Linked DNA regions of Homo sapiens: region 1 is linked to region 2. The links come from fine-mapping of genetic effects on gene expression. A gene starts in region 2. The other region holds a variant in brackets. All regions are shown on one strand. Distances are from middle to middle. Region 1 overlaps SPG7 (SPG7 matrix AAA peptidase subunit, paraplegin). Region 2 holds the start of SPG7 (SPG7 matrix AAA peptidase subunit, paraplegin).

Evidence for each region. PIP is the estimated chance that this variant, and not a neighbour inherited with it, causes the effect.
Region 1: its variant is the best candidate, but not a certain one, in a credible set for the expression of SPG7 in whole blood (TOPMed, PIP 0.55).

The regions. Positions count from the first base shown.
Region 1 is chr16:89,542,052-89,544,895 of GRCh38, reverse strand. It overlaps SPG7 (SPG7 matrix AAA peptidase subunit, paraplegin), which reads right to left. Exons shown (of 17, transcript NM_003119.4): 10 at 124-248. Among named protein-coding and RNA genes, the nearest start is that of RPL13, 17 kb to the left of the region's middle. The variant G/C (reference allele first, on the strand shown) is at 1,120.
Region 2 is chr16:89,506,724-89,509,621 of GRCh38, reverse strand. It overlaps SPG7 (SPG7 matrix AAA peptidase subunit, paraplegin), which reads right to left and starts at 1,219. Exons shown (of 17, transcript NM_003119.4): 1 at 1,022-1,219. The coding sequence starts at 1,204. It overlaps LOC101927863 (a long non-coding RNA gene), which reads left to right and starts at 1,302. Exons shown (of 5, transcript NR_188547.1): 1 at 1,302-1,385. RefSeq lists silencers at 726-845, 876-1,435, 1,506-1,715, 1,836-1,905.

The DNA of each region.
Region 1 (2,844 bases), 35 kb before region 2:
CCAGCACCTGTGGGGCTGTGACAGGCTTCACACCAAGAAGTGTCTTAGAGGAGAGGCCAGACCACTCAGAGCGAGTGGGGGCGGCCCAGGTGGAGTGGGAGAGGCTGGGATCCTGGCTCTGACCTGCAGCGTGGGGAGATCAATGAAGACGTGCCGGTCCAGTCGGCCTGGCCTCATCAGAGCACCGTCCAAAATGTCAGCTCGGTTCGTGGACGCCAGGACGATGACATGGTCTGTGGTACCCATTCCTGAGGGGACAGAGCAGACAGTGGCTCTGAGGGTAGGGGTCCTGACACAACAGATTTCCCCTGCAGGTTCCCCTTCAGGACACAGGAGGGAGAGAGACCCCCCTAAGGCCCAGAGAGAAAGGAACAGCCCGGTCCTTCTGAACTAGGAGCCGCGATCCCCCATCGCTCCCAGCCAGCATCACCAGGAGGAACAGGAATTTGCCTATTTTGACAAGTGCAAACAGCAGAACTGTCCAAGGCCCTCCGGGAGCTCCTACAGCATCCTGGAGCCTCTCCCTGCCTCACGGTGCCATCTGGGAGCCGGTCCTAACAGCCACCCCCCACCCCCCACCGCCCTGTCATCATTATTGTGACTTTGTAACATTTTAGCTAACACCCAGCTTTAGGCTGTGACTTGGAAACATTTTATCTTCAACGTCTGGCCCTAGGCCCTGGGTTTCAGGCTTGACGTTTGTCATCGGAGAATTTAAAAGTGAGTCCAGAAACGATCACTGATCCCTGGTGTATGTGAACCTTGACTGGCCCTTGATGTGAATAAATCAACTGCGAAAAGAGATTTATGAAGCTGCTGGGAACACCTGACTGGATGCTCGTAAGAACGTTCAGGTGTTATGATGCTGTGGTGTTTCTCTGAATTTAAAGAAACGTACTCAGAGCATATAAGATTCAAAACTATGGGTTTGCTTTAAAAGAATCCAGTCCACCAGGTGCAGTGGCTCACGCCTGTAGTCCCAGAACTTTGGGAGGCCGAGGCAGGCAGATCACGAGGCCAGGAGTCCAAGAGAAGACTGGCCAAAATGGTGAAACCCCACAAAAGATACAAAAAATTAGCCGGGTGTGGTGGCGTGCACCTGTAATCCCAGTTACTCAG[G/C]AGGTTAAAGCAGAAGAATCGCTTGAACCTGGGAGGCGGAGGTTGCAGTGAGCCAAGATGACACCACTGCACTCCAGCCTGGGCTACAGGGCAAGACTCCGTCAGGAAAAAAAAAAAAAAAAAAAAAGAATCCACTGGTGGCCAGATGCGGTGGCTCACGCCTGTAATCCCAGCACTTTGGGAGGCTGAGGCAGGTGGATCACCTGAGGTCAGAAGTTCTAGACCATCCTGGCCAAAAGGGTGAAACCTCATTTCTACTAAAATACAAAAATTAGCTGGGTGTGGCGCATGCCTGTAATCCTGGCTACTCGGGAGACTGAGGCAGGAGAATCGCTTGAACCAGGAAGCAGAGGTTACAGTGAACCGAGATTGTGTCACTGTACTCCAGCCTGGGCGACAGAGCAAGACTCTCAAAAAAAAAAAAAAAAAGGAAAAGGTCCACAATAAACAGTGTTAAAAGTAAAGATACGACAAGACCTACCTTGACTAATGTAAGAACAGGACCCGTGACTAATGTAAGAACAGGATATAGCCAGGCGCGGTGGCTCACGCCTGTAATCCCAGCACTTTGGGAGGCCGAGGAGGGCGGATCACAAGGTCAGCAGATGGAGAGCATCCTGGCTAACACAGTGAAACCCCATCTCTACTAAAAATACAGAAAATTAGCTGGGCGTGGTGGCGGGCGCCTGTAGTCCCAGCTACTCCGGAGGCTGAAGCAGGAGAATGGCGTGAACCTGAAGGGTGGAGCTTGCAGGGAGCCGAGATCACGCCACTGCACTCCAGCCTGGGCGACAGAGCAAGACTCCGTCTCAAAAAAAAAAAAAAAAAAAAAAAAGAACAGGATCTACCATGACTAATGTAAGAGCAGGATCTACCGTGACTAATGTAAGAAACCCTTAATAATCCCAGCACGTTGGGAGGCCAAGGTGGGAGGACCATGTGAGCCTAGGAGGTGAAGGCTGCAGTGAGCTATGATCATGCCCCTATACTCCAGCCTGGGCAATGGAGTGAGACCCTGGCTCCAGCAACCCCATGTTCTTAGGACAGGACCTTGAACGCTCTGAGGAGGCTGAGGGGCCTGACCAGCTTCTCCAGGGCCACTGTCCTGAGCCTCACTAAGCCGTAGCCGCCAGGTCTGGACAGCAGCTCAGTCCAAGACACACCCCACTCCCAAGCAAATCGCTCCCGAATTTCAAAGAAACTTTGAAAGACACAACCATTCTCCCTGGTTCCACACGTCAGAATGTGATAAGCTGGGATGCTAAGTCCCAGTCACATTTCTACAAGGGAGATCACAGAAGAGAATCACCTCGCCAAGGCAAAGACAGTGTCTTAAAATCACGGTGACTTTTAAAATAAACTCAGAAACAAAAACAGGCAGCAGAAGCACAAGTGCCTTGTCTCACTATGACACGAGGAACAAGAGGCTGGGGAGGGTGGGGACTGGGACCCAAGCTGGCCCCTCCAGAGCTGTCTGGAAGGCCTGCCAAGGCTTACTGCTCAGTGTCGTGGAGCGCCTTCCTTGCAGAGGCCAGGGCTGTGGATACAGAATTCTGAAAGATTGTATAAACAGTGAAAAAAATGGGAAAAGTAATAGGAACACCGGTCTCAAAGAAAAACAGCAGCCAGGCCAAAGAGGTGCAGTGCGAGCTCCTAGAGGGGGCGGCGCCGGGTTCAAGCACAGCTCGGCCTTCAGCAGAGCCCAGCCACCCTGCGGGGCACGTG
Region 2 (2,898 bases):
ACCAGTTAACAAGTATATACTTTCAGAGTTCTCCTTTCAAGATAAACATTTTCCCATTTAAATATGTTTTATGGCCGGGCGCGGTGGCTCACGCCCTGTAATCCCAGCACTTTGGGAGGCCGAGGCAGGCGGATCACAAGGTCAAGAGATGGAGACCATCCTGGCCAACATGGTGAAACCCCGTCTCTACTAAAAATACAAAAATTAGCTGGGTGTGGTGGCGCGCACCCGTAATCCCAGCTACTCAGGAGGCTGAGGCAGGAGAATCGCTTGAACCCGGGAGGCGGAGGTTGCAGTGAGCCAAGACCATTGCACTCCAGCCTGGGCGACAGAGCGAGATCTCTGTCTCAAAAATAACCGAAAAAACAACAACCTAAAAGGTGTGGGCTAAGCTCCTAGGCGAGGGCTAGGAGAAAAAAACATCAGCCCAAAAGCTGAAGGACACAAGGTCTGGTTTTCGGGAGGAGATGCTATCCTATCCTTAGCAGAACCTGAAACAAGGCCGCACTACAGGGGGTGCTCAATGACTGTATCAATAACGTGCCGAGCTACATGACAACAGCAAAATGCAGCTACAGGGTATTTTGCGGACACAGAAACGTTCTGGGCCCCCTACTCGGCAATAACCACCCTAACTGGAAGGCGCTGGAATTCCTGGTGACGGAATCGATCCACAGGCGTGGACTGTAAATTAGTGCTACGCCGGAAACCGTTACTGGATTCCACTTTAAAAGGCGAGGAAGACGGGCGGAGAACATCCACACACAACAGACGGGTTGGGAAAGTCCACGCCGAGGACTGCGCGGATCCCAGCCCTGCCTCTTCCCGGCCCGCCCAGCGCCCACGATCCAGGGCCCCAACAGTCGCTCCGCGCCGAGGTCCACAGCTGGGGGATCCGCGGGCCCACAGGCGCAGGCTCCCCCGCCGCAGGGGCCAGGCGGCCTCCGACCCGCCCCGCCGGGCTGGGCCTTACAGAGCAGAGCCGGGCGGGAGGTGGGGCCCGGACTCCGCGGGGATTTACCTGCAGAGCTCGGCCTCCAGCCTCGGCGAGGTCCCCCGGAGGCCTGCTGGCCATGTACGGCCGCCCCCTCCCGGGCCTGGCGGGGAACCCTGGACTCCAGGCCGGGCCTGGGCCCCACAGCGGCCGAGGACCCGGGCCTGGACCCCGGCGGAGGGCACGGAGCAGCAGCAGCAGCACGGCCATGTTGGCCTGAAAGCCGCGCCTGCGTGATCCGCGGGGCGCTACACGGCGCCTGCGCGGCGGGGTGGGCGGGGTCTGACGTGGCGCCTGCGCGGTCCCCACAGCTGCGCCCCGCCGCGCCCGGGTGCCGCTTGCCGCACCCCCGAGCCTGAGCCCGTCTACCTCGTGGCTGCCTGAGGCCCGGGTATGGGGGCGCGCGTCTGCGAGGAGGTCGCGGGTGCCCTGGTTTTTTTGAAGCCGGCCTTGTATTCCCAGGGCCTGGCGGGTGAATAACCGGCCGGGTCGTGGCTGCGTGGTCGTGCTCCGCCCGCGCCGAGGGGCCTCACGCCCGGGCAGCCTGCGTCACCCGCAGGGTTCGGTCACAGGCGAGGGCGGATGGTGCGGGCCGGAATCCCGCCTGCGAGTAGAGGCCCGCGCTCAGGAGGGCGGCGCCGGAGGCCTCGGGTCGGGAGGGCCCCTTCGGGTGTGAGGAGCGCAGGAAGGGGGCGGTTTTCCTGCGTCTTGAGCCGCCCGAGGACGAGGACTGAAGTTGCAGCCGCCGCAGGGAGGGCAGCCCCGGAGGAGGAGGGTCGTGAGGGAGGGAGCGCGCAGTGCGGCGCGGCCTGGCAGGCGTCTGCAGAGCTCGTCCCGCACACCTCTGACTTCGGAGCGCTCCGTCCTGTGCCTTCGGACTGGCTCACCTCGGAGGCGCTTCGAGCCTCGGTCCTGCCCCGGCCGCTGCGCGAGCCCATCGTAGGAAGCGGGGAGGCGCCGTCTGGAAGCTTAGGAAGAGGCTCTGTTCTCTTCAGGGTCCGCCCTCCGGGCCCGGGCAGGGTCCCTCGTGGGCTCCCAGGCGCGCGGGGTCCTCCGCCACCCCGACCCCTTCCTCCGTCCGCCTTAGGTCTAGAGCTGACGCCAAGAGCTGGAAAGCTTGTTGAGTAGGAAAAGCAAAGACTAGATGGTCTGTCACAGAGGTAGGATGAGGGTGACCTATTTATTTTTATGCTTTTCTGTACTCCGCAAATTCGTAACAGTGAATGCCAGTGACGACAGCCAACATCACCGAGTGCCTAGCTCCGTGTCGAACACCCATGTAATATTCACAACCCTGTGCAGCGAATACAATACCTCTATTTTACATGTAAAGAAAGATTCAGAAGTATTAAAAGTAACCTGCCTAGGATTACAGCTCTGAAGTTAGGGCAGAATTTCAAGGCCGGTCTGGTTTGTTTCTGGACCTGCACTCACTCCACCACTACAGACGAGGTTGCAAAGCCAGTGGGCTGCGTGTAATCCTCCCTCTTCCTCAGCCCCGAGACGCTCAGGAAAGTGTTTTCAGTTATCGTGGTTATCCGCCCTCAGCCCTCCAGTGGGCCGGGTGCCTCGGCAGAGGTGCTCGGGGCTGGGGAGGTGTTCTGTTGGTTTGTGGAGAGGACCTTCCCCTACACCCAGGGCTGACACTGATTTTCACAACTGAACCGCTTTTCCTTTTGCTTCTTATTGTACAGTCAGCCTTCGCAGTGAATCCAACCTTGCCGTTTCCTCCTCCACTATTTTTTCTTTCCCTGATTGAAAGACACCAGGTGGGCCGGGCGCGGTGCCCTCCCCCTCCCTCTCCCTGCCCTTCATCCCAGCACTTTGGGAGGCCAAGGCGGGCGGACCACGAGGTCAGGAGATCGAGACCATCCTGGCTAACACGGCGAAACCCCGTCTCTACT